2 linked regions of the Homo sapiens genome follow. The protein of the gene in region 1 purifies or fractionates together with the protein of each later gene. This does not show direct contact. Each region holds a gene or a part of one and is shown in the gene's direction. Other genes may lie near its edges.

What was found.
Region 2: the proteins of ZNF518A (region 1) and GNG12 purify together in Homo sapiens (affinity purification with mass spectrometry; one large-scale study listed by BioGRID and IntAct). This does not show direct contact.

Annotation. Positions count from the first base shown.
Region 1 is NC_000010.11:96,128,608-96,133,203, forward strand, and holds the start of ZNF518A (zinc finger protein 518A), read left to right. Parts: upstream 1-1,689; 5' UTR 1,690-2,145; exon of another isoform or gene 2,146-3,978; 5' UTR 3,979-4,063; exon of another isoform or gene 4,064-4,596.
Region 2 is NC_000001.11:67,823,232-67,827,048, reverse strand, and holds part of GNG12 (guanine nucleotide-binding protein G(I)/G(S)/G(O) subunit gamma-12), read left to right. Parts: intron 1-3,817. UniProt on the Homo sapiens protein: Guanine nucleotide-binding proteins (G proteins) are involved as a modulator or transducer in various transmembrane signaling systems.

The DNA of each region.
Region 1 (4,596 bases):
AGGTGAATGTATATGTAGAAGTAAAAATAAAGTTATAATGTGAATACTGTGGGGGGGGATGCAATATCTTAATCGAAAAAACAAAAACTACATCAAAACACAGAACAAAAAACTCTGTCCATTTTTCCAAACTAACATCGTTTTTTGTTATTAAAAGAAAAATCTCGTTCTCTCTCTTTCTGCTGTGATGTGTGTGCATGTCTGGCTTGCACAGAAATGAGGACCTGAAGAGAGATGGGTGATGTACGATGCGGAATAAAATCCACTTTGTAAACATGTTCTTCATTCCATAATGGCATCCCCTTTGGTATTTACAGAAGATTTCTCCTTGTGTGTTTTACACAAGCATAAATATGACTAATGTGAATTTCCGCTCATTCGCCTTTTCTAGGTGGAATTGTGTAGCCCAGTAAACACAATAATAAAGAAGGCTTCCTAAAGACAAAGTGAGGATTTCTCAGTGTGCTTTTTATTAAAGGATGGAGAAAATCTTGCATTTGGCTACAGGCTGACATTTTCAAAAGCCTGCCCTAAGACAATGAAAAATATGTATCATACACATATTTTAAAAAATTTTTAAAAATTATAAATGTCATACATGCTACTTAAGAAAACACGGAACATTAAAAAATGAAAAATCTGATCATAGTTTCACTTTCAATTTATTGGTATATCCTTCTGCGCCAAGGTTTTTTGTTGTTGCTTAAACGTTTGCCGCCACTTATTCCCTCCCCACATTTTAAAAGGAAGATAATTTATGTAGAATTATGTAGAAAGTGAGGTATCAATTAGTAGGTTGGATTTATAAAGAACAGAAGAGGAGCCACACTGGCCTTTGGGGTAAAGCCAACCATATTAACTGTCCAGCCCTGTTGTCAGGTAGAGGAAGTATTCGTTTGAGGGAGATGTGAGCCTCCCTCATTGTGAAGATAGTTTTTGATCAATTATTCAATATATACAGGTTTGGAGTTCAGTATGTCTTCTAGAACTACTGGCGGCAGCTTCTTTCGTTGACGTGGGCTACAATGGTTGCTAAAACCTGCGTGCCAGAAGCCAGAGGTGGGGAGGCGCCATTTGCTAAACCGGAACTGGTTAAAATCTCAGGGTGGAGACCATTCCCAGTCAGCAAGGGCTTGGGAAGTGCATACAGTTCCTGCTCCTGGTGTCTACTCTGAAGAGCACAGAGTAGACGTTTGTCTGCCATTTCACCGGCAGTAAGATCAGCAGCTGCTGGTGAGCAAAGAGGTAGTAGTGGGTCACTGGACTGGTGGGCGCCGGGGCCGCGCGCTAGATGGAGAGGTCAGCGGCGAACCCAGCTCCATGGCCTAGTCTCGTCAGACCGAGCGCGGACCCTGCCGGCCTCCGTTCTCTTCCGCTTGTCTCAGGTAAAGCGCAGATCCCTCCGCCGCAGCGTGCGCTCCCGGTAGCGCTGCGATCAGCTTTTCGGCAATACCCGGATGGAAGTGTAATGGCCGCCATCAGGGACTCGCAGGCAATGGGTACTACGACAGGTATTCCCCGTCAGCGGGACTGCCCAGACCTTTTAGGATGTCAGAACTTCTAGAGGGCCACCCAGCAGGCAAACGGCGAGTTTGTGGACCGTCAGGGTCCCCCAAACAGGTCCAGGGATCCGCCTCTTGTGAGAGGAAGCGCGAGTTAAATAGTCCCGGCCATTCAGCGCTTCCGCTTAACTTGCCGCAAAGTTTTTCTGGAGAAGTCGGGGTTTTTTTGCCGAGCGCTTTTGCCGACTGCTAGAGCTTACCCTTACTTTCTTAACCTGGGGTTGTTTTACTTCCGGGCTTTTTGAACTCTACACTCTCCTACATTCTAGGAGCTGGGTGGGAGTAGGAGACGGTGTGCCTCCGCGCTCCCCGCGGGGCAGCCGAACCCCGGAGGAAGGGGCGGATCGGGCGCGGTGTTTGGGGCGAAGCTGGGCGCGCGGCGCTCGAAGCACTCACTCGGCGGGTTTCGTGGTTGGTGGAGACAGCAAGGGCGCCCCGCAGACCGCACCCCTCGAGCTATAGGTTCGCAGGCCCGACTCGACGGCGTCCCTATTGCTGGCCCAGCGTATGGTCATTGGGGGCCATTTCTTGCAGAGATGCCCTGCTCCCTGACGCGCTCGCTCTTCTCCAGAGTTGGCCAAAGGTGCTCTTCCCCGCAGACCCTAACCACACCCAGTGGCAGTTGGATTTCTTTGTAACTGGCTTTCTCACATGTAGGGTTCATTTTGACTCTATTCGTTACATGGTGTCCTCTTTGTCAAGTAGACAGTCTCTTCCTAGGTGGCTGTGGTAATTGAAAAGTACATAGAGCGAAATGTATATAAGGAAAAATGTTTTAACTCTTAAGTGGACCGATCAAACAGATGTAGCTTTAAAGTTCAGAATACAACAGTTAAGACTCAGTTTTCTTTTTAGGTTTAAATTTGAGAGCAAGTAGTGTATGTGAGCTGTTTTAGTGCAAACATTGTTGAGTATGTTGTCAAACGTCTAAAAAACCCTAGAAAAATAAAATAAGTCAATGTTCAAGGAATTCATAAGAATGTTGGAATTTGTACAGTTGTCGCAGTGATAAAACATGAAGACACCAAACTGTCAGGATAGGAATTCTATTAACTTGAAAGTGTGCATGTTAGATCTAGTTACTGGTAATTGTTGAATTGCTTTTTCTGCAGCAAGGGGTCTGATTTGAGTGTACTCTAAGGTTGATATCCTCAGGTTTAATTTAAAACATTTAAATTGATTCAGTGAAATTTCCTAACATTTTTTGAGTTTAACTGCAAATTTATAGAAATGCATTCACTATCTTTCAGCAAAATTGTCTTTTCTGAAATTTATAAAGAGACATTGCGTTCTGTTAACACTTTGAGGGTGTTGGGATTTCCTGGGGAAGGTAAGCATAGTAAACGATGTTGATTTTTGCCATAGAAACTGTAAATTAGATCATCCCTAGATACAGAAAATTGCCAACAAAAGGGGAGAATAAAATGTAGGTATGTTACACAACCAAATGTTTCCTGTTTGTTGCGTGAAAATAAGTATAATTACCAAATAAAACGTTTTATATCTGGTTTTATGGAAGGACAAAAGACAGTAACCACAATGAACACCCACTGTGTGCATTGATAATGTATGAACTTTTAAATGCTTCAATTTTTTGCCATGGTCACACTTCGGATTCTGTTCTAGTCTCTCTGGTAATAGTATGCTGTAATCCCAGAAGTTTCTATATTTTGAAATATTACAGAGGGACTATACTTTAGCCTAGATCTATAATTTGACTTCAGGATATGCTTTAAATGCCCTTTAAGTGTATTTTTGTTGTTTACTTTTCTGTTTATAGTTGTTTAGAATTGTTCTCATTGAGGCATTGTGACATTGCATACTTTAGAGCACTTAATACTACTTTTTTTTTTTTTCTTTAAATGATAGGAGACTTGAATCTTGCCCACATTCCTTCAGGTATGCTACTGAAGGTTTTGTGGCAAAGTGCTATTAGCAGAACAAAAAGGTTTTAACACCGTCTTGAAATTTTTATTTATTATCTGGTCCCAGGTGTGTAGGCTGTGAGTATTTCAGTTCTATATGGGGTATTGGCTTCTCATGGTGAGCAGTTTTCATGGCATATTAGATACCAGAAATGAGTATTAAGGGTTAGTATTGTGGTGGTAGGATAACTGAATTGGAACCGGATCCAGATATTATTTCTAGTTTTGTGACTTTGGGCAAGGCTCATTTTCTTTTTCTTGTAATAAATGAAGATACTGAGTTAGATTGATTCTAAGCTTTAGGTTGTGACTTTTGCAAATTTGTGACATGTTATCACTGGTCATCAATGATGTATGCTTAAGTGTATAGAAGTTTTTTCTTAGTTTTTTTTTTTTTTTTTTACATTTCTTTATACACCTAAGTTGAATGTGAAGTGTAATTGAACAGTTTTTGTCGTCAAAAGTTTTAAAATCTTGGTCTTCATTTCCAGATATCATCTCTTCTTTTGATCACTGTTCCTGATTGTGACATTGTGCAAGTGTTAAATTGTGTGCCTTTTGTTCCTGAAGAAAGAGGTATGGTAAAGATTGAAATACTGGAGTATATAGTCTATTAAGTAGTAAGTTGGTATGTTTTAATATTGGACTAAATAAAGTAAAATATAGGTTAAGTATCCCAAATCCAAAAATCCAGAATGCAAAATTTTTTGAGTGCTGACATGATGGTCAAAGGAAATGCTCTTTGGAACATTTTGGATTTTGAATTTTTGGATTTGAGATGCTCAACTGGTATAATGCAAATACTCTAAAATCCTAAAAAAGAAAAAGAAAAAAAGAATGAAACCCTTCTGTTCCCAAGCATTTCAAATAAGAGACACTCAACCTGTAGTTTTACATATACATGAGTTTTCATAAGTTATATAAGTTATAGTTTTATTTTATTTTTTGGCTAAAATAAAATACTTAAACATGAGTTTTCATTTTAATCTAAGCAAAAAAAGTAATTTTTGGTTTCATAGTTTATTACTTAACATTTTATTAGAAATCCAAATATAACTTTAACTATCATCCTTCTGAATAGAAAAGTGGCATTAAAGTCTTCTGGGTAA
Region 2 (3,817 bases), on another chromosome or scaffold:
TGGCTTTGTGCAAACTCACATGAGCCCATTGGAGGCAGAATCTTAACTTCATTGATGTGAAATAATCAGGCTTTTATTTAGCTTCAGATGGCACTAGCCAAGACGTCCTTGACCACTGGACACTAAACCCTTAACTCCCCACTGGGACCCTTTGACTCAGACCCCAAGCTTGCAGTTACCTCAAATTTTGTGTTGTTTTGGGGGGATAAATTATTGCAGAGGAAAAACATAAGGTTTTTTCTCAAATGAAGACTCAAACTGAAATCCATTAAATCCCAACATGAGCTAAATCTAAGGGTGGAAAGAGGAATCAAAATCTAAAAGCCTCTTGGACTTTATTGAGGCTTATTGAAGACCTTATTGAGATAACATCATCATACCAAGTTTAACCAGAATCTCAGGCAAATTAGAAAGGTGTAACCTTTAGACTAGGTGCCTGAGCTGTGCCTAGACTAATGAAATCTTCTGAATTATTAGACCATGGCCTGCACATTAGACCATGGGGCTTCATGTGGGTATATAAGGTCATGATTGGCTGTGCAGATAAGTTGTCATGGGAGGGTTGGATGTCTGGCCAAGAAGCAGAAGGAATGGATTGTGACTTCTTGACAGGGATACCTTGAACTGTTATACAGGTTGTTCACTGCACAAAAGTGCCTGGGCAAGGAGGCAAATGGGAGGCTCACATCTGCTAAACAAACAAAACCACATGCATCCTGGAGTAGGATTGCCTCTGCTAGGAGAAAAGGGAACTTCTTTCTGATGCTATCAAGCCTGCAAAAGTCTAGGTGTACATGGAAGGAATGCCTTTTTTTAACACACACAAAGGCACAATATGGCTACCAGCAGCTCTGCTTCTCAAAGCCCCTGTAGCCACAGTAGTCCTCTAGATGCCATCAGCTGGCAGAGTCTGTCACTTAACCATTTGGTTTATCATGTCAGGCTTTATTGGGAAACATATAAACTTCATGAATGTCAGTGGAATGAAGGAATAAAACCATGTTTTCTGTGGTATGTCAGCAAGGTACATGTAAAAAAGTAATACTGATTATATATGCTAGGAAACAAACATTCAGTGGTACACATTGCCTATGATGAGTTTCTTTCTCTTCAATTCATTATTTCTGAGGGGTAGGTAAAGACCAGCACTTTGGGTGCTGTTGACATTGTTTATTGCTACTTAAACACCAGCATGCTCAGTATTGCCTAATACTTGCCAGGGTCACCAGCACCCGTTGTGTAGTTGGCCTGGTGCAGGGAATGGAGTAGTAGTAACTCCTGGGAACGTGGAGAGGGATTCATGTTATTTATTGACCAGCCGTAGGCCTTTTTCCTTGGGGACAGGATGCAAGTAACAGTGGTTGCAGGAGCCTTTGGAACTTACCTATGAGTAGCTGCTGCTTCTGGAAAAAGGCTTCTAGTTTAGGTTAAAAGGTGCGGAGTCTTGTTATCAAAGGTACCACAAACTCAGAGAGTTTGTCTGTGTTCCCCTTAGTACCAACTGGTACTACTTTCTTGCTTTTTTAAGTTGATCCTTTAGAAAGCCTGTAGCCAGAATCAACTTCCTTCTCCTGGCTCCTCTTCTGGGAGGCATTTGCACAGCCTGTAGGATCAGCCATGTTTAGTGAATCTAACTGCTAAGGCAGTGGTCCTGAGGATCAAGGTGCTGGTTCATACTTCGGACCTAGGCCATCTGCTGTTTTCTGGAGACAATACACCTTGTGAAAAAAACTAAAAGATGCAGAAACGTGAATGCCTTTCACATTTAACCTGGTTAAATGCAGCTATCTTCAGACATACTCAGATTCCCAAAGCAGAAAGAGCAGAAGATGACAATTCCTAAGAATTTCTTACAGAATTTCTTTAAATAGCAAATTCACCTGTTGTGTTTATAGTATGATTTGATTACACAAAATTCCAGGAGTCTCAAGTTTTCAAGGAATATCTCTGTCAAATTCAGCAGAATATTCCAGCACATGCCTTGCCCTCTTTTTTAACATAAATATTTGATGAGCAGCATGCTTTATCCAAGAGCAAATCAATGCTCCTGGCAGGCTGCCTAGAAGGTAATCCTAGTGTTCCTATCTTTGCCTCCCATTCACCTACAGTTCTCTGACTTCCTATGGCTGTAATAAATATCCGGGGGCTCAGAGCCACCCACATCCAGCAGGTAATATAACACAGGGCAGAAATTACCCTCTCCACACTCACTGTGCTTACCTCCTGAATTCTGGACTGAGATTTCTCTGACTGACTTTCACATGAGAACCTACCTGCCTAAACCCAGGTTTCTTCGACTCCTCCTCCTGAGCTGTTGAACTCCACCTTAGCTTTATCTCTTCCATGCCAATCTTGTCCTGTTCTTCACACTTCTGGGAAAATTGCTTATACAACTTCAATATTTTTGAAAATATATAATATATGATCCTCAAGAAACATTATAACCATATACAAAGGTAAACATTTTTGACAATTTCTTACAAGAATTCCCTACAAGATTTCTTTTCTTTTCTTGCTTCCTTTTTTTTTTTTTTTTTTTGAGACAGGATCTCAGTCTGTCATCCTGGCTGGAGTGCAGTGGCACAATCATGGCTCACTGCAGCATCGACTTCCCTGGCTCAGGTGATCCTCCCACCTCAGCCTCCTGAATAGCTTGGACTATAGGTGCCTGCCACCACACCTGGCAAACTTTTGTGTTTTTTGTAGAAATGGGGTTTTACCATGTTGCCCAGGCTGGTCTCGAACTCCTAGACTCAAGCAATCTGCCAGCCTCAGCCTCCCAAAGTGCTAGGATTACAGGCCTGATCCACCGTGCCCAGCCCCAGGATTTCTTTAAATAGCAAATTCACAAAAATCAAAAGTTTTCAAATTCAAAAACCTTGCTCCCATCTTATCCCCATCCATGCCTTTCCCATATTCTCTGCAAGTAGCAACTTGTAAACACAAGCAAATAAGAATATATGGTATTTTAATTCTCCCCCCTTCTCTCATTAAAGGTGGTGTATATACTCTTCTTTACCTTACCTTTTAAAATTAGTGGTATGTTTTAGACATCTGTCTCTGCAAGTATCTCTTTCTCACACACACACAGAATAACAAGTTTTCCATCATGTGGATGTACCATGGTTTATTTGACCAATCTCTACTGCTGGACCTTTGGGCTGTTTCCCAGTCTTTTGCTATTACAAACAGTGCTGTGATGAATAAAGATGTAATAAATCATTTTGCTTTGTGAAGGTGTACTTAAGGATTGATTCCCAGAAGTGGGACTGCTGAATCACAGTGCTCTGTAGTACCCCTCCGGAAAGATTGAACCATTTTGCCCTCCCATCAGGAATGTATTGGATGTCCCGGTTCCGTACAGCCAATGGCCATAAAAGTGTCAGCTCTTCTTATTTTTGCTAAGCTGGTTTCTGCACAACGGTAATTTAGAGCCATTGAAATATTTTTGATTATGAGTGAGATGGCGGTTTGGGGCGGTTCTTACATCTTTTCTAGAATGTTGATCCTCCTGTGGGCATTTGTTGACCTTTCCTCTTGCATACATCTCTGTCAGAATCTCCTAAATACAGACTTACAAATGTGATGGCTCTTTTGGGCCTAAGGGTAGAGTGGGCTGCCAAATTGTCAGTGCAAAATCAAGAGAAGTGGAAAGTAGGGTTTTATGCCAGTTGCTAATGTCTGAATTAAAAATAGTTTTCAGCTAATGGTATTACTAAACTGGGGCTTCTCCAAAAAACATGATGAAGATGATCTTCTAGCCTAGAATTTCTCCCTCTCAAACAAAAACAAAAGAGAGAGATTGAGAATATATACA